3 separate regions of the Homo sapiens genome follow, and regions 2 and 3 are each linked to region 1. The links come from fine-mapping of genetic effects on gene expression. A gene starts in region 1. Each other region holds a variant in brackets. All regions are shown on one strand. Distances are from middle to middle.

Region 1 (8,180 bases):
TCCTCTGAAGACGAACACCCAAAGGAAGGAGAGGGTAGGAATGGCACAGGACTTGCTAACACCTCCAGCTGCCAGGCCTCCTCTCACCAGTTATGAGGAAAGCCAGGCTTCATTCTTACCCCACCCCCACCAACTCTCACCTCCCTCAGCCTTCACAAAAAAACTCCACCCATACCTCCCCAATCCTATCCAGAAGCATTTCCAAAGTCCCTTCTTCCCTTTAAAACTAGTCTCCTGGGCCAGGCGACATGGCTCACGCCTGTAATCTCAGCACTTTGGGAGGCCGAGACGGGCGGATCACGAGGTCAGGAGATCGAGACCAACCTGGCTAACACAGTGAAACCCCGTCTCTACCCAAAATACAAAAAATTAGCCGGGCGTGGTGGCGGGCACCCATAGTCCCAGCTACTCGGGAGGCTGAGGCAGGAGAATGGCGTGAACCCGGGAGGCGGAGCTTGCAGTGAGCCGAGATCGCACCACTACACTCCAGCCTGGGCGACAGAGCAAGACTCTGTCTCAAAAAAAAAAAAGGCAAAAAAAAAAAACTAGTCTCCTCCAGCTCTGCTGAAGCCCTGCCACAGGAGTCACATTCCAAGTAACCGGAAAGAAAATACAGAATGAATGTAATCCATCATTTGTGGATACCCTAACCCTCGCCTTATAGTAACTCTAGTTACTAGAGCAACTAGGAAGCTCTCCTGAAATCGTAGTTCATTTTCTGGTGATTAGGTTACTTTCAGAAATTAGAGGTTTCATTTATACTAAGAAACTTAATATGAAACTACTATTCCCACCTAATGAGCAAGAAATGCTTTCACTTATTAATATATCTTGCCAGGGCGAGGCACAGTGGCTTAGGCCTGTAATCCCAGCATCCTGGGAGGTCGAGGCAGAGGGATCACTTGAGCTCAGGAGTTCAAGACCAACCCAGGCAACATGGCAAAAACCCATCTCTACAAAAAATTAGCCAGGCATGGTGGCACACACCTGTAGTCCCAGCTACTCGGGAGGCTGAGGTGGGAGAATCATCTGAGCCCAGGAAGTCAAGGCTGCAGTGAGCCATGATTGTGCCACTGCACTCCAGCCTGGGTAATGGAGTGAGACCCTGTCTCAAAAAAATAGAGAGAGAGAGAGAGACAGACAGACAGACAGACAGACAGAGATAGGAGAAAGGGGGAGGGAGAGAGAGGTAGGGCAGAGAGAGAGGGAGAGGAGAGAGGAGAGAGAAGAGAGAAAGAGAGAGAGATCTTGCCCATCTGGCTTTATTCTGAGACCCACCGAGTGAAGCCTGTGGCAGACAAGAGTGGTTTCTATGAAAAAAATATAAATAAATAATAAATAAAAAGTGGTATTCCCAGATGTGAAGGCAAACTACAACAATGACAATGGCCTCTCTATTGATTGGCAGGGTCAATTTGGCTGACAAGTTGGCTGGTCAGGTTTCTCATCTCCAGGTGCTCTGCTTCCAAAGCTGGGAGTGGTACAAAGAGATTACATGGTCCTTGCACCAGAGTTCATCTACTTTACTCAACCCCATAGTTTTACATTCAGTTCTAACAAATTTAGATGGTTTCCAAGTTCAGTTAATCAGACAGAATAAATCTTCATAGAGAGAAAAACACTTTATTCATTCAACAACTATTTGTTGAGTGCCTAAGAAGTGCCAGACACTTGGAGATTCAGCAGTGACTGATACACAATGACCCCATCTCCTCCTGGCTTATGTGTGTTTGGTGGGAGGCAGAGGCAGAGGGTTAGACAGTAGAAAAGTAAATTAAAATTAAAATAATTGTAAATAAAATAATTACAACATGTTACGGTGGCTAACAAGGACATAAACAGAGCTGAGGATCTTGCATTCTCAGAATTATGAAAAGCAATATTCAATCAAGGCCAGGCGCAGTGGCTCACACCTGTACTCCCACCACGTTAGGAGGCCAAAGTGGGAGAATCCCTTGAGCCCAGGAGATCAAGACCAACAACATAGCAAGACCCCATCTCTACAAAAAATAAAAATAAAAATAAAAAAATTAGCCAGGCATGGTGGTTGTGCCCACATTTCCAGCTACTCGGGAGGCTAAGGTGGGAGGATCGCTTGAGGCCTGGAGTTCAAGGCTGCAGAGAGCTGAGATTGTGCCACTGAACTACAGCCTAGGTAAAAGAGTGAGACCACATCACACGCGAAAATAATTAAAAAACAAAAACTAAAAAACTAAAAGCAACTGATCTTTGAGAAGTGATAACTGCATTCTCAAAGTACCTAATCTCAACAATACCCTAACTTAAAACCTGCTGACTAGGAGATGTATTTGACTGCAAATCTGGCCCACACAAGCAATAATCTGAGTTTCCATCAAGGAAGCTGTAAGCACCAAGTAGAGCAAAAACAAATCCAGGCCTCAAATGGAAAAAGCAGCTCTGAATTGTGATTTTCGAAGAAACCTGCATTTCTTACACTTCAGTGTACTTTCCCCATATTTAACTCCAAGATTTTTGTTAATTTGTTTGGTTTTCCTTTCTCAAACAAAATTATGCTCAGACTGAAAACCCTAGATTTGTTCCCTATTGCATCTTCATTTCTTCCCAAACATTCCATAAAACGTGACCTACATTAAGTTAGCAAGTTAAGTCTGAAAGCGTCTACCTTCCCTGGGGAGGGGGAAGGTGTAGGCAGGGCAGAGATTTGTAGTCCAGCCCTCTTGCCACAAATTATGAATTAGAGAGGAATGACTTTGCTTTTTTAATGATCTCCAGAGAATTTTCCATCATTTCCCTCTCTTCACCCAGCTCCTTTGCAACCACTGCCAGAGAAGTCTTCCTTTAGCTTCTTAAACATCGATCCTAAAACACTTCCAGACACCTGTGCTGCTCCTTTCAGTTCCCATGGAGATTAGGCTGTGTAACAATCTCGCAAAGACGTTCCCCTCCGTCTCCTCATCCTCTTTTCAAACCCTTTTACGATTTCCCATCTCACTCAGCATGACAGTCAAAGTCCCTGTGATGGCCAACTTCTGCATCACCTAGCCAGTCTGCCACCGCCAAAACTCTCCAGCCTCATCTTTCTACTCTTCCCCTGGTTCCTTGCCCACGCCTTTACACTTGTTCTCTGCTTGGAATCTTCCCTCCCCTCCTTGAGGAACTTTCTCAAATGTCACCTTCCCTCAATACTCCCCCTCCTCCATTTAAAACTATAAACTTCCAACTCTCTAAGCCCCTAAAGTACTCTATATTTAACTTATTGTATAAACTACTGTCCCTACTTGTAAGTTCCAAGATTGCAGGGATTCACCCGCTTTGTTCACTGCTGTCTGCCAAGGTCTAGAACAGTGCAAGTTACCCAACAGGAGTTCAATAAACAGCCATTCATTTAACAAATATTTGCTGAGCACTTCGTCCCGTCCAAGTTTGTTAAATCAAGACAAATAAGACACCGTCCCTGCCTTTAACGCACCAGATGGAGAAATGCACCACAGACATAAATGTGCAATACAGGCCTGACACTACGGCCACAAGCAAGTCAAAGAACGTGCCAAAAGTTCAGAGGAAGAAGCCTCGGCTTCGCCTTTCGGGAGACCAGTCCAGCTTTCCACCATCACGCTGCTCATCAGGGACCATCTCCGGGGGTCTCCTCTAGACCCCAAGGGAGGAGCGGGTCCCGCCCGCCATTCCCAGGTCTCAGAGTTTACTTGTCCAGAGATGCAACTTCCGGCCTCTTCAGGCCGGGCAAGATTTAAGGAAAGAAAAGAAACATAAGGACCTCCGTTCTTCGGTCTCCGTCCCCTCCCCTTCCCCCGCGTGCCGTCCCCACAACGGGCCAGGACTGAACCCAACTCTCGACCAACTCCCGGCAGCAAAACTAAGCACCCTACTTCCGTTGTCCCCACCTGTTCCCGGCGTCCCCTTCGGCTACTCCCGGCGTTTGCGCAAGCGGTCCCACGTGGGCTCGGGCGGGGCTAGCGCCGCGGCGGGGGCTGGGCACGCCCCTAGCGCATAGCTGGCTTCTGATTGGCTTTCCGGTGCTCGCCCGAGCAGGGTTGGGGCGAGTGGACCGCGCCTCTAAAGGCGCTTGCCAGTGCAATCTGGGCGATCGCTTCCTGGTCCTCGCCTCCTCCGCTGTCTCCCTGGAGTTCTTGCAAGTCGGCCAGGATGTCTCAGGTACAGCGCGTGCACAGCCAGGCTGCGAAGGTGCAGCGGGCGGGAGGCCCGTTGGGGGCTCAGCCGGCTGCCAGAAGCTCTCGGGCTCTTTCCTTCCGTGCCCCTCACTTGCTCATGGGCCCATGCCTAGCCCTGATTCGTTGGACAGAGCCTTGTGAGCGGGATTTTCCGTTTGGGGATTTCTAAATCTGCTGCCCACCCCGCAACTGCCGGAAAGTTGCCCATGGGGTGGACTTCGCTGTGTAGCGGGAGAGGGGTGGGAGTCGAGGGTGCTTGATGGAGAGATGGGGGAAGGGGTTGCACGGATTGGAGGAGCGAGGAGACTCAGTCCCCATCCCGAAGCACAGGGCAGGACGTCGCGGCGGAGTGGGGAAGCGAGGAGTCCGTGGCCGAGAGCTTGGAGGTCAGGGGAAGTACGGGGCCGGCTGCTCAGAGTGCGGGACGAGGAGAATCGCGGCCCGGGGAGAGGTGACCCAGGGGCCCCTCCCTTCTCTCCAGTGTAGACCCTTGTCTGAGACCGAGCTATGTGGGGCGACCTCTGGCTCCTCCCGCCTGCCTCTGCCAATCCGGGCACTGGGACAGAGGTCGGTGTTGAACGCGCGGGCCCCAGGGGGAGGGAGGGGACCAACGGGCTCCGGCGCTGACACCGCGGCACTCATGCCCTGTCCCCTTTCAGCTGTTTCCAGCATACTGTGCCCCGTCTGTCCTCAGGCCAGGGCTTCGCTGCAGCCCCGGCCACTCCCTAGTGCCTGGCCCGGTGGTGGCCAGGCAGTTGGCCGCGCTGCTTCTCCCGCAGAGGGGACCCCCACTGGGGGCGAAGGCTTGGCCTGCCCTCTTCACTGCTGTATTTCCAGACCTGATGCCTGCGTTTGTGAGAGCTCTGGATATATGGTTTTCGATTGAATGAGTGAACTGGAGGGGCTTCCCCTTCTTGTGTTGCTGAATCTTTCTAGCTGCCCTGTTGGGGCAGGGAGGGGCAGACACACTTCAGGGGCTGCATTGCCCGAAGGGTGCCACCTTTCCCACCTCTCCATCCCCGTAACTGGGCTGTCATCAGGCCACAGTAGGATTCTTACCCTCTCCCACCCAGAGGAGGCCCTCAATCCTCTCCTCTCCCTTCCATTTAGGCTGAGTTTGAGAAAGCTGCAGAGGAGGTTAGGCACCTTAAGACCAAGCCATCGGATGAGGAGATGCTGTTCATCTATGGCCACTACAAACAAGCAACTGTGGGCGACATAAATACAGGTATGCAGAGCGGGGGTTGGAAGGGCATCTGCTCATCAAAGCAGGCTCAGCAGCTCAGACTGGAAGTCCCTGGGAACTTCACTCTCAAACTGCCTGAGGCCCTACTCTTCAGGTGGGGTATGGTGATGGTTCCTGAGGTGGAAAAGACCATGTTCCGGATTCTCAGTGTCTCCAGTAGTAACAGAATTCAAATCCTGGTTTTAGAAGGTCTTTACTGGTTATCACCAGCAGCTACTCTCTACTAGGGAAGAAGCAAAGGCTGCAGCTTGGAAAAGACTTGCTGAAGGCTCTCAGCTCAGTAGTATCATTGTTGAGCCGTTCAGCTTCTGCCCTAGATGGGCAGGATCAAAGTTGGAGCACTTTTTGGAGCACTTGACAGCCTGGCCAAGCCTGATGTCAGGAGCAGAGAAGCACCTGGTTTCTTGGGCTAGGTCAGAGCATTTCGCTAACAAGTCTGTGCCTTCCTGATGATAACTTTTTCCCTGCCCAGAAATCTTGGTGCAGATTTTGAGGCTGTGCTTTGGACTGTCATGTTCTGTAATAACATCTTTCCTGCCTTGGGCAGGTTTCATTCTGTCCCTAAGTCCCTGAAACATGGGTGGATACTGAGGCAACAGCGCAGTGCATTCTGTGCAAGGACTCAGGGTTATCATGGCAGCACAGAAGGGAGGTCTCCCCTGCCCCTGCTGAGGAAGAAGGCGAGCATGGTCCCTATTTCCGCAGTAGCTGGGGTGGAAGATGGAGCAGGTGGGCTGGCTGCCAACCAGCTGGAAGCAGGAAATAGTACCCAGAATGACAGATCACAGGCAGTACCATATCAAACCCTGGGGTTCACATGGAGCACTTAGTTGAAGAAGGTCTTATGGCGAAGGTGAGTTTTACAGTGAGTTCGTAAACTCTGTCCTTCCAGGGAGGGGAAGGAAAGGTGAAGTGGGGGAGGCCAGAGGTGCCAAGATGCTTTTCTGACAAACAGTATTTTCACAGAGACTGGCCTGTGCCCGTACTAGAGTTACCGATTTTCACATGAGTCTAGATAGACTGGCATAGGAATCTATCACTTACTGATCAAAGAGGTGTCATCGGCTCTCTCTAGGGCTGTACTATACAGCCCTATTACACGATTATAAAACATGATAGTCCAAACACGATAGTTTAGTATAATAGCCAGTAGCCACATATGACTATATAAATTTTAACTGAGGCTGGGCGCTATGGCTCATGCCTGTAATCCCAGCACTTTGGGAGGCCGAAGCAAGCGAATCATGAGGTCAGGAGTTTGAGACCAACCTGGCTAACGTAGTGAAACCCCATCTCTACTAAAAATACAAAAATTAGCTGGGCATGGTGGCATATGCCTGTAGTCCCAGCTACTTGGGAGGCTGAGGCAGGAGAATCGCTTGAACCTGGGAGGTAGAGGTTGTGGTGAGCCGAGGTCGCACCACTGCACTCCAGCCTGGGCAACAGAACGAGACTCTGTCTCTAAAAAAAAAAATTTTAACTGAAAATAGTTAAATAAAATCAAGTTTAGTCTTCATTCACAGGAACCACATTTCAGATGCCCAGTAGTCATTTCAGGTACTTGGTGTGGCAAGTGGCTCCTGAATTGGACATTGCAAATATACATGTACATTTCCATTTCCACCGCTTGGAGAGAGCTGTCGAGGAGTGCTATTCTAGGATCCTGATGATGACCACAAGGGCAGTTTGTTTCAGCTGTCCCTGGGAACACTTCCCTGAAAGCGCTCAGGGACATTTTCTCAGGCACAGTGCTCCAGGCTACGGACTCTGATTGTTCCCTGTGGCTTTGGGGCTGGGCATCGTAGTGAAATAGGACAACAGGGAGATGGTGAGTGTGTTTCCCAACTGCAGATGACAACAGGTCTATAAGCATAAAGTCATCATATAACTTAAAGAAACCTTACCCTCGGTGAAATCTCCCACAGATCAGCAAGAAATAGACTAACAATTCGGTAGAAAAATGGGGCTAGGATATAAACAGTTCATAGGAAAGGACACCTGATATCATTAATGATTAGGGAGAGAAATTGGGTAGCTAACAGCAGGGGTGAGAGAGAAACTTTATAGTATTTTCCTCTGTAGCTTTTGAATTTTAAGACATATGAATGGATTTTTTTTTTAATTGTAATTAAAGTATAATTTTTTTAAAAGAGAAATTTTGGAGTCATTTAACTTGTAAGACAAAGGCTATCTTGTAATAAGAATACTGTTCTTCCTATTTGCTCTAGATTTTAAGTTTGGATTGGCATACATTGGTTTTCTTAGGGCAGAACCCACTCTACTAGACCTATTTAACCCCATGACAGAGCCTAGAAGGAACAGGTGTAATAGAAGATGGCATTTATGGCAAGAAGGTTGATCAAGTTCTCCATTAGAATTTGAACCAGATCTAATGCCTTTTCTTCCCTTGTTTAAGAACGGCCCGGGATGTTGGACTTCACGGGCAAGGCCAAGTGGGATGCCTGGAATGAGCTGAAAGGTAATTGTTCTAATCAATTTCTCTCATTTGTGAAACCCAGTAGTGAAAGAGTCTTCATTATGAAGTGTAAGGGAAGAGGAGAGAAAACAAAGTCAATGGGGCACGTGTGGGAAACCAGCCTGACCTGTGCCAGAATGGGAAAAAACCGGGCCACCTACTTTTTCTCCTAACACCATTTATGCCTTTTCTAAAAGCACCATCTCTGAGCAGGAGCATCATCTAGAGAGGAGGGGCTGGGAACCAGGCCACTGAAAAATAGTTTGGGAAATGATGTAGTTGGCGT
Region 2 (8,180 bases), 77 kb before region 1:
CCAGTGTGTGCAGGCCATGGAGATGCAAGAGTAAGCCTGATCTTCAACCTCAGGGAGAGCCACATCGTTTGGGGAAGGTCAGTATATAAAAAAGCAAGGCCGGCCAGGCACAGTGGCTCACGCCTGTAATCCCAGCACTTTGGGAGGCCAAGGCGGGCGGATCACGAGGTCAAGAGATCGAGACCATCCTGGCCAACATGGTGAAACCCCATCTCTACTAAAAATACAAAAATTAGCTGGGCATAGTGGTGGGCACCTGTAGTCCCAGCTACTTGGGAGGCTAAGACAGGAGAATTGCTTGAACCCAGGAGGCAGAGGCTGCAGTGAGCCAAGATCATGCCGCCGCACTCCAGCCTGGTGACAGAGCAGGACTCCATCTCAAAAAAAAAAAAAAAAAAAAAAAGCAAGGCCACAGTGTGTGATCAGTGCTCCAGAGGACTGGCCAGCACACAGCAGGATGAAAAGGAGAGCAGGGACCAGTCTCCTGGCTGTGAAGTGCTGGGAAGGTGGGATGGAAAGGACCTTAAGGACAAGATGGTCCTTGGTTGTGCCTCCCAGGATGAATGCTAGTCTGGTGGAACATTCAGAGACCAGAGTGGGAAGTCTGAGAAAGTGGCAGCATGGTGTGCCCAGAGAGAACAGGGTAAGGGGACAGGGGAGAGCTGGGGGAGACAGGAGGAGGTGCCAAATTCCATAGCTGGAGGAGAAGCTGGAGATGTAGCCAGAGATCAAACCAAAGAAGCCCCACTACACCATGCCAGAGTGTGCTCGTGATTCGGAAGGAAACAAGGACCCATCCGATGGTTCTGAACAGGGAGGGATACAGCAGTCAGACTTGCATTTTTAAAAGATCACTCTGGCAGCGGCATGAAGGCTGGACTCGGTGGATGAGAGTCTGCAGGGAAGGACACCAGACGGGAGAGTGTCTCTGCGGTCAGGATGAGAAATGATGAGGCCCAAAGCAGGGCAATGGCGGTGGGAAGGGAAGGGGAGGCCGTTCTCATGAGATGTTCATTCCAGCAATTCTGAGCTGACTTCTGTTGAGGAGGTATCAGCAAGTAGTGAAAGGCAAAGAAGGGTTTCACTTGCTCCAGCTATGGACTAGGAATTTCTTCTTAGTACCCCCAGTGAGCAGAAGAACCTTCTTTCACCTGCGAAGTCCCTCCTGATGGTTGGTTCTGGCAGGCTCCATCACTTAGGAGCTGGGAAACCTCGGGCAGGTCACTTTACCTCCAAGTGCCCCTTCCCCATCTGTAAGATGCAGATAACTAGTACCTACCTCACAGGGGTTGTGAGCAGTAGTGAGTAAATATCTGCAAAGTGCTTTAGTGAGGCCTGACAGGGCAAGCACTTGATAAATGCTGGCTGTTTTATGCCTGGCTCAGTCTCGCTTCTGATGGCTTGTCCTGCAGAGCTTGCTGGACCTTGCTGGAAAAATACTTGAAATTTTGAAATATGGCTTTTGTCACATATGCAATATCCACATAATGGAAGTGCCTACCAGCCAGAAACCAGGCAACTATCACACCTCAGTCCCCACCAGCTCACCATCACAGGTTCCCATGTACATACATACACACCGCCCGAGACCCTCTCCCACAACCCCACCACAAGGGCCTCTGCCCTCAAGTATACAACTTTAGAGGGTTATTTGAAAGCAGGGCTAATAACATGTTTTTTTTTTTAATAAGACATCACATATACATTTTTAAGATGGGAAGTCTCTGTTTTTGTTGAGAACAACAAAGGGGAATATGACATGGAAGATCTGAGGAGACGTGATATTTGTTCGAAGACATTGAGGCTCTTTCTTGATTCCTTGAGTTTTTTTTCATGGCAGAAATTTTTAACTGACATGAAGTTCTGGTTATGAAGGAAATTCTAGAAGACAACACATCTTCTCTCCTTACTCCTGAAGGAAGAGGTTAGATTTGGACGCAACTGTGTGTGTTTAAAATAAAATGGCATTGTTCTTACTTAAATTCCAATTTCTTATAATATTAGAGTTGGTCTTCAGTTAGTTGGTTGTGTTGGGAGAGTGATTTGGACCATATACATTACCCTCAAATATTCAAAAATGAAGGCCCAAATTTACCTATGGTGACAGAAATCACAGCAGTAGTGGCTGATGACAGAGGGCAGTGGTGGGTGATGACAGAGGGGCAGAGAGGGGACTGTGATGGCACAAAGGAGGTTTTGGGGGTGGTGGGCATGTTCTGCATCTTGACTTAGATGTGGGTCGTGCACTTGTCAAAACCCAAAGAACTGCATATCTAAGATCTTTGCATTTCACCATCTGTAAATTATACTTCAATTTTTTTTTTTTTTTTGAGACAGAGTCTCACTCTGTCGCCCAGGCTGGAGTGCAGTGACGCCATCTCGGCTCACTGCAAGCTCCGCCTTCCGGGTTCCCGCCATTCTCCTGCCTCAGCCTCCCGAGTAGCTCGGACTACAGGCGCCTGCCACTGCGCCCAGCTAATTTTTTGTATTTTTAGTAGAGACGGGGTTTCACCGTGGTCTCTATCTCCTGACCTCGTGATCCACCCACCTCAGCCTCCCAAAGTGCTGGGATTACAGTATACTTCAATTTTAAAAAAGTAAGGGAGAGAGCAAGCAAGCAGATTTCCAAAGTTAAACATGAGAGGCTGATTATTCATTTACATCATCTCCTCTGAAAACCCCATTAAGATGGGAGTAAGGGGATAATACAAACATAAACTCATGAAGACAAAGAGACCCAGAGAGAGGACATCGAGGACAAGAGAGTTGATCCAAGTTTTGAAGGCGGGAAGTGGATGGAAGGGTGGAATTGTAAGAGCAGAGAAAGCTCCAACCCCGACACTGGCAGAAAGCACCATCCACCAGAAGCTAGACACTCACCCTCAGAACCTGGAAGCCGCAGGCCTTGCTCAGGCCAGAGACTGGAGAGGAGGCACTCACCTGCTTAGGGTCAGCTATTCCCCTCTGAGGACAAGTCACCTCCCCAGAACAAGACACGTGGCAATGGTAGAACCCACAAGCTCCATCCCCTCAGCCTTGGTGAGTCACTCCAGCCCCCAGCCTCCTCTCCCTCTCTTACACCTCAAGCCTTCTAGCAAAATTTCCCTGACTCTCGAAGGCTTTCAGGGAAAACCGAAATAATCTGTCTTCAAGCTGCTCTACTTTCAAGTGTATAAGCAACCCTGGGCCAAGACACTGAAAAAGCCAACATGTTGGAAAGAGAGGAAGAGAGAATACAGAGAGAATTGCTGGCTCTAGAAACTACTCTGTCCCTTTGACTTGGAGCCCGAGGAAGGCCAGTTACCAGGACCTTTGCAGGCAGGTCCCAACGCATTTCTAGCAAACACGGGGGCCTTAAGGCTGCAGAATGTGCGCTATGTCAGGAGGTCTCATGCAGCCAGAAGGTAGGGACATACTGTACTCTGCCTCAAATCAGCCTTCTTAAGATTCTACTCTCCTGTGGTTTAGCTTCTGTGTTCCATCTTGCACTTAACCAAGTCTCCTTGACATCTTAGTCTGGAAGCGTCTACCAGCTGTGGTGTCTGCATTAAAGCGCAGGGTGGCCGGGCGCAGTGGCTCACGCCTGTAATCCTAGCACTTTGGGAGGCTGACGTGGGCAGATCAGGAGGTCAAGTGATCGAGACCATCCTGGCCAACACGGTGAAACCTCATCTCTACTAAAAATACAAAAATTAGCTGGGCGTGGTGGCACGCGCCTATAGTCCCAGCTACTTGGGAGGCTGAGGCAGGAGAATCGATTGAACCCAGGAGGCGGAGGTTGCAGTGAGCCGAGATCGTACCACTGCACTCCAGCCTGGCGACAGAGTGAGACTCCGTCTCAAGAAAAAAAAAAAAAGTGCAGGGTGGCTTTGACAGGACTGGGGACTGGAATTAGACACCAAGGGGGTCCACAGAGCTATAAAGAGACCCTGCCACTTTAGACCTTGTCTCAGGCCCCGCTCGTAGCCCCAACTCAGCCCTCTGCCGGTAGTAGTTCTCTGCTGTCAGCCACACCCAGCTAAGCCAGGAAGAGAGACCACAGAGGCACCGCTCTGCACCAGGGCAGACTGGTTTTTATTCTGTCTGCTGCCTTAAAGTGAGATTTCTTAATTTTTAAAATAACCTAGAAACAAACATAGGGTTTTGTACACTATCCAAAGAGTTACTGGCATTGCCTAATTATGTGTGAGAACATTCAGTCTTCAGAAGGGAAGAGGGACATTCCCTCTGCAAAGTAATTCCTGCGTCCCTGCCCCTGCATGGGAGTCACCATTTGACCCCAAAGCTCTGGGCACTGCTTACAGGCTCACATATGCCCAAGCTAAAGGACAGCTTCCAAGCCCCTCCACCAAGCAGAAGAACGTCTCCCTGCAATTGGTTTGAGAAGGAATTTTTTAAGCACCTCACCTGGGCCAAATGGAGGAGGCTGCCTATCAATTGTTGTACTAGGAAGCATTTAACACAGAAGCCATAGAAACCGGCTCACGACCTTTCAACCTTCAGCTTTAAGGAATCCTCAACAAATATACAGGGACGTTTTCCAAAGCGTTGACACATTATTAGTCTTCTTTTTAGAAATGGCCCATCATTAAATAGAGTGGTATAAAAGAAAAAGAAGGAAATAAGACTATAGAGGTAAAACTGACTAAAGTTAGGTATTGGCTTTGAAATAATTAAGCATTGACTTTTAAAATAAAATTTTAGGCTGGGAGTGGTGGCTCATGCCTGTAATGCCAGCACTTTGGGAGGCGAAGGCGGGTGGATCACCTGA[G/A]GTAAGGAGTTCGAGACCAACCCGGCCAACATGGCAAAACCCTGTCTCTACTAAAAATACAAAAATTAGCCTGGCGTGGCATTGCACGCTTGTAATCCCAGCTACTCAGGAGGCTGAGACAGGAGACTCGCTTGAACCTGGGAGGCGGAGGTTGCGGTGAGCCGAGATCGTGCCACTGCACTCCAGCCTGGGCGACAGAGTGAGACTCCGCCTCAAAAAAATAATAAAAATAAAAATAAAATTTTAGGCAGTAGCAATTGCATGGTCGCTGTTGAGCACTAGTACAACATGCCACCCCATCTACAAGCTGATGGCTTTGACTTTCAGCTATCAGACGCCAAGGCTGACTTACAGGGGGACAAACCTATTGAACACAGTCCTTAACAAATGACTGACACCGGCTCGGCCTCATCAGTTCCCAGGCCCAGACAGACTCTGCTGCCACCTGGTGGCTGAAGGGTAGGCAAAGGCGGACAAGTGCAGAGCCACTCCACCTGACCTGCAGCCTGGACTTCTCCGCGTAACGAGGCTCTGCTAATATGGCAGGAAAGGTGTCATACCGAGGAGAAGCTGCTCGGCAAGATGTAAAGATGAACGGCTGGGCATTAATCGGCTGGTGCCTGGCAGGTATCTAGAATATTCTAACTACAAAACCTGCCTTTGCAAGATTTTTCTTCCCAGAGATTCTATTTCCTTGAACAAGCTGTGTATCCATTCATTCTACCACCTCACTCCACCCCATCCCACCTGAAGCAAGTTACAGCCAGAGAATAGTGAAAGGGACGGCTTTATCCTTATAGAAAGGAAATTTAAAGTGCCGGCTGTTGTTAATGAGCCCATTACTCCTAATTGGGGAAAATTGCAACCAGAAGAAAGGGGATATGTCAGGGAAACATGTGACAGGTAATGTGCTCAGGGCTGGCTGAATCCAAGGGCAAGGCACCTCGGGAAATGAAATGGGAAGAGAAGGTTCTTGGAAAATAAAAAACGAGTCCTTCCCTGGGTCCAAGAACACTGCTGGGTGGTGTGGTTGGAGCTGACAGGTGGAGGGGGAGAACGGGCAGCAGCCGGACACCCCTGCCTTGTAGGAAGAGGCCTGGCTCCACTGCCTAGCACTCATGGGGGACAACCTCCTATTCAGTGTCTAAATGTTCTCTCTGCGCGATGGGATTAGTAGTATTTCTTTGTAAAATAGCAGTGTAACAGAAATTATTCCCCAAAACAATATGTTTAGTCAGGCACCGAGCTAGGTCACCTTAACAAAGTCACAGAGAAATTCTGGAAGGTCAGTGTTATCATCCCCACTTAACAGAGCCAGAAACTGAGACCTGGAGAGGCCAAGCAGCTCACCCAAGGTCACACCTCCAAGCTAGCAACAATGCCTGTGTTCTTCCAACCCCGGGCTGCCTATGTCCAAGCGGAGCTCTCTCTTCCCACTCATGCTTGCCTAAAGCAAACACAGAAAGACAAATGATTCCAATATATGCAAAAGTGCACCATTTGCCTTTTCCAATTTGTATAATTTTAAATGTCACCACAAGTTCACTTCTAGGTCACTTTTAAAACAAGCAACTTTGCTTTAAGGCAAGTGGGGAAAAAAATTCTGCCTTAATTTGTACAGTTGTACAATCCACTGTTCAGTTTTCTACTTAGTTTTCCAGGGAACAGTTCAAACAGAAACAAATGACAATCTAGGACACTTATCTTGCCTATTGTGACTAACCACCACAGCGTTTGAGTTTTGTTTTGTTTTTTTTCCAGCTGGTAAAAAAGCCCTCACAGGAGGCTCAGGACCGCCTCCGGGCATACGCAGAGCCCTAGCGGCAGAAAAGAACTGTCAGCCGCATGAAAATGCAAGTGCAGCAGTGACCCGAGTCAGACCGACAAAAACAAACTAACTTTCAACACAGGTTTTCATCTCATTTCCTCAACTCCATTTGAAACACATATGCACACAGGACTGCTGACCAATTATTCCAGAGCTCAGTCTATACCACTTTACACATCTGGATGACTAATTTCAACTAAAGAAACTCCTAGAGAGTGTATTCAGTCTACACAGATCTGTTAATACATTGCTATGGGATGAGCTTCAACAAGCTGTAAAGTTTCGCTTTAACATTCAAATACAATCTTAGGCCAGGTGCGGTGGCTCATGCCTGTCATCCCAGCACTTTGGGAGGCTAAGGCAGGCGGATCACCTGAAGTCAGGAGTTTGAGACCAGCCTGGCCAACATAGTGAAACTCTGCCTCTACTAAAAATACAAAAATTAGCTGGGTGTGGTGGCATGCGCCTGTAGTCCCAGCTACTCAGGAGGCTGAGGCAGGAGAATCGCTTGAACTCAGGAGGCAGAGCTTACAGTGAGCCGAGATTGTGCCACTGAACTCCAGCCTGGGCGACACAATGAGACTCTGTCTCAAAACAAAACAAAACAAAACAAACAAACGAACAAAAAACAAATATAATTTTAAAGTCATTCTCTCATCCCAGAAACATCCCTGCTGGCCTATGAAGTGCCAGCCACTGTTCTATACATTGGAGACATTCTAATAGCAGAAGACGGAACAGAAAAGGATTTTTAAAAAAGTAAAACAGAGATAGACAAATGAGTTTTGCAAGGGCAAGCATTTGCTATTTTATCTAGGATAAGCAGAGAAGGCCTCTTTTATGGCATTTGAGCAGACAGCTGACAGAAAGGGAGAAAACCATGCAAAAAATGTAGAAAAGTCACTGCAAACAGAGGGAAGAGCAAGTGCAAAGGCCCTGGGGCATGTGTATGTTTACCAGCTGGCCCTGGGGCGTGCATATGTTTGGTGTGCACCAGGAAGAGGACCAAGGCCAAGGTTCTTTCTCTGAGTAAGGGTTTTGAACTGAGGCATGACAGGATCTGACTCATGTTCTAGAAGAATCACTGTGATGGCTGGGTGAAGAATTGCAGCGGGGCAGGAATGAGAACAGGAAGAATTGTAGTGGGGTAGAAGTGAGAGAGAAGTGAAACCCAGTTGGAAGGAAGGTGACTGCAATAGTCCAGGTAAGAATGGTGGTGCCTTGGACCCAGTGGTAGCAGTGAAAAAGGTGAGAGGCGCCTGGGCCCTGGATATACTCTGAACGCCCGTGGAGCAGACAGAACTGGCTGATGGCCTGGCTGTGGGGGTAAAAGAAAAAAGAGATATATATCCAAGGTTTCTGGCCTAAACAAATGGAGGACTGGAGGTCATGTCCTTCAGTGGAGAAGACTGAGCATGGTCCACCCTCAGGGAGAAAGCTCAGAGGCTCAGCTGGAGTGTGTTATCATCTGAGGCATCTATCAGAGGATACCTATCAGCCACCTCACCAGGGATGGGGAGCACCCAGCAGGGACTCCAGCGGGCAGCTGGGCTGTGGACTGAAATCCGGAGTCTGCAGCAT
Region 3 (8,180 bases), 29 kb after region 1:
TCAGAGGAACATGTAAAGGGAATGCTGCAAGGTTCTCAGAGGGACATGGCAGAATGGTCTGGTGGAATGGGCCCAGGTCTGGAGGAAGGAAGGCCTTGGGGCCTGATGAGCAAAGTGTGAAGTGTCTAGAGAGGGAGCTTTGGGACAGAGTACATAAAGCATGGGATTTACTTCAGTTCCAGCAGGCCTGGTTTCAAATCCTGGCTCTGCTACTTACCGCTAACCTCTCCGGAACTCCATTTACTCATCACTAAAAGGGATTATTATGATGATTGAATGAAATCAAATGTGTTCAAATGTATAAAGTGCCTGGCATCCAGTACCTACTCAATACATGGAGTGAGTTTTATTATGTGGAGGGAACAAGGTTTTTCAGTGGACTAACAAAGGGCGTGGAATCTAAATAATCTGTCTGTGTGTCTGTTGCCCCCACTGCCCGATGGACAGTGGAATAGGGACTGCACCTGGCACACGGTAGCCATTCAGTATGAGCATTCAAAGAATGAACCTGCATAGGAAGCACTGGAGCTCCTATGACTGAACCAACCGTCATTTTGGGGGTCCCCACAAGCTTACTCAAGTCCTATTGCCTGGCTGACTGTGCAGCCTCTGCTTTTGGTGGCTGGAATTGACACTGCAGGTATAGATTTATGCCAAACCCTGATCTCTTTATGCAGAGCCCAATCCTGGACCCCACCGCCTGCCTCTTCTCACCTGCCTGGTGGGATCTGAGAGGGAACTGCTTCTCTGAGTCGCCTCCTGCTATGCCTCCCCACCCCAACTTTCCCCTGCCTAACTGGCCCCAGGTTATAGCACCCTTGTATGGCCTTGAAAAAGCTGTTCCCTCCTCTCTTGCAACTGATAACACCCTCCTCTATCCAAGCCACCCACAGGGACACATTTCTATCACAGAACTCTAGATGCTTTATTTTTATTTATTTATTTATTATTTTGAGAAGGAGTCACACTGTGTCACCCAGGCTGGAATGCAGTGGTGCAATCTAGGCTCACTGCAACCTCCACCTCCTGGGTTCAAGCGATTCTTCCACCTTGGCCTCCTGAGTAACTGGGATTACAGGTGTGCACCACCAAGCCTGGCTAATTTTTGTGTTTTTGGTAGAGACATGGTTTCCCCATGTCGGCCAGGCTGATCTCGAACTCCTGACCTCAAGTGATCCACCCGCTTCAGCCTCCCAAAGTGCTGGAATTACAGGCATGAGCCACTGCCCCCAGCTACATGCTTTGTTACAATTATTTGTTAGCACAACTGCCTGCTTCCTCCTGGGTAAGGTCCTTGAAGGCAGCGGCTGTATCTTCCCTGTCTCAGAGGTTAGCCACATAAATCCTCAATAAACACACTTATTGAATGGATGAACAGATGGGTGTCAAAATTTCATCTCCTTCTTGTCTTCCTCAGCTGTACCCCATTCAAGGTATTCCAAAACAAATTCTATTAGTAAATCCCCACAGCCAGCAATCATTGCCACACTTAAGATACAAGAGCCCCCCTTATCCACAGTTTCACTTTCCAAGTTTTCAGTCTCCTGCAGCCAACCACAGTCCAAAAATATTACATATAATAAGATATTTGAAAAAGAGACAATTCACATAACTTCTATTATACTATATTGTTATATTTGCTCTATTTTATTATTAGTTATTATTAATCTCTTACTGTGCCTAATTTATAAATTAAACTTTATCATAGGCATGTATTCATAGGAAAGAAACATATATATGTGTGTATGTATATATATGTATATAAAAATATAATTTTATTGCTCAGTCATGGGAAGCACAAAATAGAGTTCTTGCTGAGTGGATGGCTCCTTCCAGGTTCTGCCTCTGCCTTCCTTTACAGCCTTGGGGGCCTCTGAGCTCAGCATGAGGACTGGGAAGGACAATGGAGGTTTTTGTTTTTGTTTTTTTGAGCAGAGTCTCGCTCTGTCACCCTGGCTGGAGTACAGTGGTGTGATCTCAGTCCACCGCAACCTCTGCTTCCCAGCTTCATGCGATTGTCCTGCCTCAGCCTCCCAAGTAGCTGGGACTACAGGCATGTGCCACCACACCCAGCTAATTTTGTATTTTTAGTAGAAATGGGGTTTCACTATGTTGGCCAGGCTGGTCTTGAACTCCTGACCTCAGGTGATCCTCCTGCCTTGGCCTCCCAAAGTGCTGGGATTATAGGTGTGAGCCACCGCACCCAGCCAACAATGGAGGTTTTGATAGGCTAGGTCTTGAATTGACATGCATCACTTTTGTTGATATTCCATTGGCTAGAATTCAGGCACAAGGCACCCAAATTGTAAGAAAGGCTGGGAAATATAGTCCAGCTGTGTGTGCCCAGAGAAAAGAGGAAATGGTTTGCTTAGTAGTCGGCTAGTCTCTGCCACACCACCTTAATGGGAATTATTTTACCAGTTCAAAGATTTGAGAATTTAGATTCGGCTCTATCATTAGCATCAGTAGACTATTTTCATATCAGAAGGGCTTTTGTGTGGTAATTAATACTGCCTTGATTAAACAGAATGCAGTTTTAATAAACCACATTTAGAGAATGATTTTTCTTTAACATTTGGACACTGATTACAGATGTTATTCAATACATTTCCTATGTGACTTAAACTAAAATTATGGTTTTATCATGACAGATTACCTCACACTTCAAATATTCTACTCCAGGAGTCAGCAAACTGAGGCTCACTGCCTGATTTTACAAATAAAGTTTTATTAGCACATAGCCACACCATCATTTCCATATAGTGTATGGCTGCTTTCCCTGTACAACAGCAGAGTTGAGTGGTTGCAACAGTAACCACATGGCCTGTAAAGCCAAAAACATTTACCTCCTGGCTTTTTAAGAAAAAGATTTAGACTGAAACAAAATATCCACAAATATACCAGACAAAAGATTACATTTAAACTTGTTCTAAAATACCACCAGTATGAGCGTCCTCTTTCTTTTTTTCTACTTTTTTTTTTTTTTTTTTTTTTGAGACAGAGTCTTGCTCTGTCTCCCAGACTGGAGTAAAGTGGTGCTATCTCGGTTCACTGCAAACTTTGCCTCCGGGTTCAAGCAATTCTCGTGCCTCAGCCTCCCAAGTAGCTGGGATTACAGGTGCACCACTATGCCCAGCTAATTTTTGTATTTTTAGTAGAGACAGGGTTTCACCATGTTGGCCAGGCTGGCCTTGAACTCCTGACCTCAAGTGATCCACCCGCCTTAGCCTCCCAAAGTGCTGGGATTACAGGCGTGAGCCACTGCACCC[A/G]GCCAGGAGGCTTCTTTTTTTTTTTTTTAAGATGGAGTCTCGCTCTGTTGCCAGGCTGGAGTGCAGTGGCACGATCACGGCTCACTGCAACCTCCGCCTCCTGGGTTCAAGCAATTCTCCTGCCTCAGCCTCCCGTGTAGCTGGGATTACAGGCGCAGGCCACCACACCTGGCTGATTTTTGTAGTTTTAGTAGAGACTGGGTTTCACCATGTTAGCCAGGATGGTCTCAATCTCTTGACCTCGTGATCCGCCCCCTTCAGCCTCCTAAAGTGCTGGGATTACACCGCGCCCAGCCAGGAGGCTTCTTATAATCACCATCCTTACACTTGTCCTTTTACCTTTTTAGAGCTTGTAACGCATATATTGATACCTTCAAGCGATACAGCAAACATATCCTGAAAAACAAGGAGCAGAGATTAAGTAGAAGAAGAAAGAGAAGGAGGAAAAGGAAGAGGAGAAAGAGGGACAGGAGGAAACATATGCTTGTTTTATTAGGATGCTTTTTTTTTCATAGATTATTGGGGGACAGGTAGTGTATTTGGTTACATGACTAAGTTCTTTAGTGATGATTTGTGAGATTTTGGTGCACCCATCACCCAAGATTAGGATGCATTTTGATTAATTAGGACAACTAGAGATCTCATCCCCCAGAAGTCACGGATGCAGTCTGGACAGCTGGTCTCTCTGGGAGACTCACCTGGTCCATCATTGTGCAGCACTCTTGGGCATCGTTCTACTCTGGGGCTTTGTGTGACTGACAACACTGATAGGTCCTCCTTGCTTTTCCTGGTCATCTCTCACTTGCTCACGCTTCCATGTTTATTCTTTACCACTTACACATGGAGAATGCGTCTTACATAGACTTAGAAACAGACATATCCACACTCTCCTCACTACTGCAATTTATTTAAATACTATCTTTTTACACTTTCTATAAACATTTCTTTTTCAGGTATCATTATATTCGCATGTCTTTTTAGACTAAACTTATTCTTAACAATACAAGTATTCCATTTTGATGCTCAGATTATGATAAATTGTTGCCAATTGTTACAGTTTGGCCAAGCAGTTCTTTTGGTGCCAAATTTTTGAAACCTTCCATTGTTTGGGGCCAACAGCAGGATATTCTAGGACCATCCTGATCTTTCTTAACTCCCAGGACACAGACAGGCCATCAGTTACCTTCTACTAGAATCCTGATTCCTTTGGTGTAGAGTTATATTAGAGTACAAAACCTTGGCACTTAGAATTAAGCAAAATACTACTGCTTACTGCTGAGTCTTTTTTTTTTTTTTAAAGACAAGGTCTTATTCTGTTGCCTGGACTGGAGTGCGATGGTGCATTTAGAGCTCACTGAAGCCTCGAACCCTTGGGCTCAAGCTATCCTCCCACCTCAGCCTCTCAAGTAGTTAGGACAATGGGTATGTGCCACCTTACCTGGCTAATTTTTAAATTTTTTCTAGAGACTGAGTCTCACCATGTCCAGGCTGATCTCAAACTCCTGTCCTCAAGCAATCCTTCTACCTCGGCCTCCCAAAGCTTTGGGATTACAAGCGTGAGCCACCATGCCCGGCCTACTGAGTCACTTTTGAAGCTACACACATAGAAAAAAGATGTCTTTTGAACATGTCATTAATGCCCTTTCAAACTGATTTTTTTTATTAAATCCTAGAAAGACAAGAATGTTTAAAACTCAACTTTATGAAGACAGACAAGGTTTTCTGACCTCCAAACACTTCCCATTACTTATCAAAAGTAAAGCTTCGAGGGATGAGACTAGACCATTAATATAAACTACAGTATCAAGAAGATACAGAATGACCAGGCTGTTGCGCTCCATGAGACAGAGGAGGGCCTCCAAGGAGGTGTGAGGGGGCAGAGCTGGCAGGGAGGGAGGGAAGGGCTGGAGGTGAGCCCACAGTGTCTTTCGCATCTTCTTGGGCTGAGTACGGAGGAAGGAGGCTAAGTCCTACAAGAGCAAAATACTCAGGTGGTGTGGGGGTGGGATGTTGGATCCGACAGGTGGCTCCTTCCCTGCTTCTGGATACTCTGCTGGGTCTTAGGAATGCTGAGGCCCCCTGCCTAGGAGAATGGGGCCCCAGCACTGAGGGCCAGGCCCAGAGAGCTCCAGCATCCAGAGATGCCCAGGGGTCCCAAAGGTAACCCGGGGCTGGCTCCCTCTGAGGAAGAGAGCCTGAGGAGGAGGAACAGGCTGGACTTTAGGGCCAGAGCTTGAAAAAGAGCGACATCCAGGCCTCAAGGATGGCAGCCCCAGCAAGCGCCCAGGCAAGGGCAGGCCAGCCCAGGCCAGCAAGCACCCAGGCAAGGTCAGGCCAGCAAGCGCCCAGGCAAGGGCAGGCCAGCCCAGGGACTTGGGGAGAAGGCCTGACACGGCCCTGAGTTCCCTAAGGCACTCACACCTCGGTAAGGGATCCAGTGGGGGCCCTGTGACAGTTCCAGGCCAGGGTCCATCCTTCTGCCCCTATCCCCTTGAGAAGGAAGGGTGAGAGAGGAGACCCCTTCAGCGAGGAGAAGAACTGATGGGAAGTCTTAATTCTGAAGGGGCTAAGTCTTTGAAAAAAGTCTCTTTTAAATTGGAGAAGACTGAGATACTTTGACTCAGCAAGTCACCCACTTCTCATCACTCCATACCCACCCTCAGTGGACTGGAAGCAGAGCACGGTGAGGCTGGGCCAGTGATGGAAAACAAAGACGGGGCACATCTGGCTAAGCCAGTGATGGAAAACAAAGACGGGGCACATCTGGCTAAGATAGACCACTCCCAGTCTCCCGACCAGGCAAGGGGAGTTGGGGGAGTGGGGTGGCTCCACCTGCGAAGCACTTTGAGCTTTTGTCTCCAGAGGATGAGCGGATACCTCTACCTACCCAGCATTTTCACAGCCTCCTGGAGACAGGGTCATCCTTGGTCCCCGCAGAAGCAGGGTGCTCATTTGTGAAAGCCCTTCACAGCTTCACCAATCAACGCTTTCCCTTTGCTGCCTGTGTTGCAACACCGTGAGTTTTTCCTTTTCCAAATATGAGTTCTTTTTTTTTTTTTTTTTTTTTTTGAGACAGAGTCTTGCTCCTTTGCCTAGACTGGAAGCAGTGACGTGATCTCAGCTCACTGCAACCTCCACTTCCTGGGTTCAAGCAATTCTCCTGTATTCTCCCGCCTCAGCCTCCAGAGTAGCTGGAATTACAGGAGCCTGCTACCACACCCGGCTAATTTTTGTAGTTTAGTATGGACAGTATTTCACCATGTTGATCAGGCTGGTCTCGAACCCCTGACCTCAAAGGATCCACCCACCTTGGCCTCCCAAAGTGCTGGGATTACAGGTGTGAGCCACTATGCCAGGCCCAAATATGAGTTCTTTTAATTTGAATGTGTTTTTCTGATACACATGCCCCATCCCAAACTGAAGATTTTCATCTCTCTCTCTCTCTTCTCCCACACACATACACACACACGCACACACCCACTCACTCCCTTTAAGAATAGCCCTGGAAGGCCTGTCCTTCTCAGGGACATCCTGGGACAGTCCCATTCATTTCAGGAGCTACACATGCTCAGAGCCTCGTACCTGTGAGCTGCTCCCCAAGAATGGGAGCAGAACTGCCCTTTACAAACACCCGCTTCCAATTCTCCATTTTCAGCATTTTTCCCTTCCTTTTAGTCCCAGCCCCAGAAATGCTTAGGATTTAATGCCGTCTGGGAATATTTGCTTTCCAAAAGGAGAAATGGGGAACAATGCAATGCTCTACCTGAGAGATGACTCATCCGTGGTTCATGCTCAGGCATCAGAGAGCAAGGGAAGCTGCACCGGGGCGAAGCTGCCTTCCTCAGGGCTCCTCCTGCCTCCCCCCAGGGGACACTTCCTTCCCCAACTGCACCACCTGAGACGCCCCAGTGCTCGCCTGGATGTCCAGGCAGGTTAAATAGCTAATTACAAGAAGAATAGTCAACAGCAGCATTTTGGAGCTGTGCACCAGGAAGTCTATTCTATGCTATTACATGGACTAGGCACTAACTTATTCTTTCTTCATAGAGTAAGAAGCTGAGACACAGAGAGGTTAAGTAAGTTGTGCAAGATGCACAGTTGGTAAGGGGCAGGGCCGAGCTGCAAATGCAGGCATCTGGCCCCAGAGCCCTCACCCTAACACTCCACGTTGCCTCCTCTTGGGCTTTTCATGGAAAAAAGGAAATGATGACTCTCCACTTCCTCCTGCCCCCATCTCTGTCCATCCTGGGGACAGGGAGAGCCTGGGACAGAACAGCCCTGGAGCAGACTCACCCACCATGCCCAGGTCTGAGGTGGATCCAGGGTAAGGAGGAGACCCTGGACAGAGAGGGAGCATCACATTGACCGGGAGAAGGGATACAAGTTGCCCACACCCACTGCTGGGTCCAGGGGGCCTAAAGCAAATGGAGGCCAGGTTCTCACCTTTACAGAGGCCGCTGCTGAAATTCTTGGTCTTTGGGCTCACATGTTTATAGACTGCAACACTGCAGTCCCGCATTAGGCTCTGGAGATACACAAATAAATAAGATGTCTCCCTGCTCTCCAGAGTTCCCTGTCACCTGGGAACCATGTGATGAAACCACTGCAGCACCTCTGGGTCTTCTTCCCAAATAATCTAACCCCAATCTGATCAAAACCCCAGATCTATCAGCTTTCAGGAAATACAGGGGGCAGGGAAAGAACGCGTCAAGCTACTCCATGGGGATACAATCAGCAAAATCTGGGTGGCACAACAAACAATCCAGTTTTGTCGAAATAAAATACATGCTACGGGGAAGTAAAGAGAGGAGAGCCTCTGAGAGACAAATCAACACAGCACAGTGCATGGACCCTGGGGGATCCAGACTAGAACAAAGTAACTTTTTTTTTTTTAAGACAGAATCTCACTCT

What was found. PIP is the estimated chance that this variant, and not a neighbour inherited with it, causes the effect. A credible set is the group of variants that fine-mapping cannot tell apart.
Region 2: its variant is the best candidate, but not a certain one, in a credible set for the expression of DBI in whole blood (INTERVAL, PIP 0.65).
Region 3: its variant is the best candidate, but not a certain one, in a credible set for the expression of DBI in whole blood (TOPMed, PIP 0.56).

Annotation. Positions count from the first base shown.
Region 1 is chr2:119,362,906-119,371,085 of GRCh38, forward strand. It overlaps DBI (diazepam binding inhibitor, acyl-CoA binding protein), which reads left to right and starts at 4,072. Exons shown (of 4, transcript NM_001079862.4): 1 at 4,072-4,155; 2 at 5,283-5,400; 3 at 7,835-7,897. The coding sequence starts at 4,147. C2orf76 (chromosome 2 open reading frame 76) reads right to left here and starts at 3,929. Exons shown (of 6, transcript NM_001322331.2): 1 at 3,885-3,929. RefSeq lists enhancers at 3,503-3,762, 4,133-4,462, 4,993-5,192 and a silencer at 3,883-4,032.
Region 2 is chr2:119,285,845-119,294,024 of GRCh38, forward strand. It overlaps a transcript of C2orf76 not described here. Among named protein-coding and RNA genes, the nearest start is that of STEAP3-AS1, 41 kb to the left of the region's middle. RefSeq lists an enhancer at 6,206-6,707. The variant G/A (reference allele first, on the strand shown) is at 4,772.
Region 3 is chr2:119,391,820-119,399,999 of GRCh38, forward strand. No RefSeq gene overlaps it. Among named protein-coding and RNA genes, the nearest start is that of DBI, 29 kb to the left of the region's middle. The variant A/G (reference allele first, on the strand shown) is at 3,270.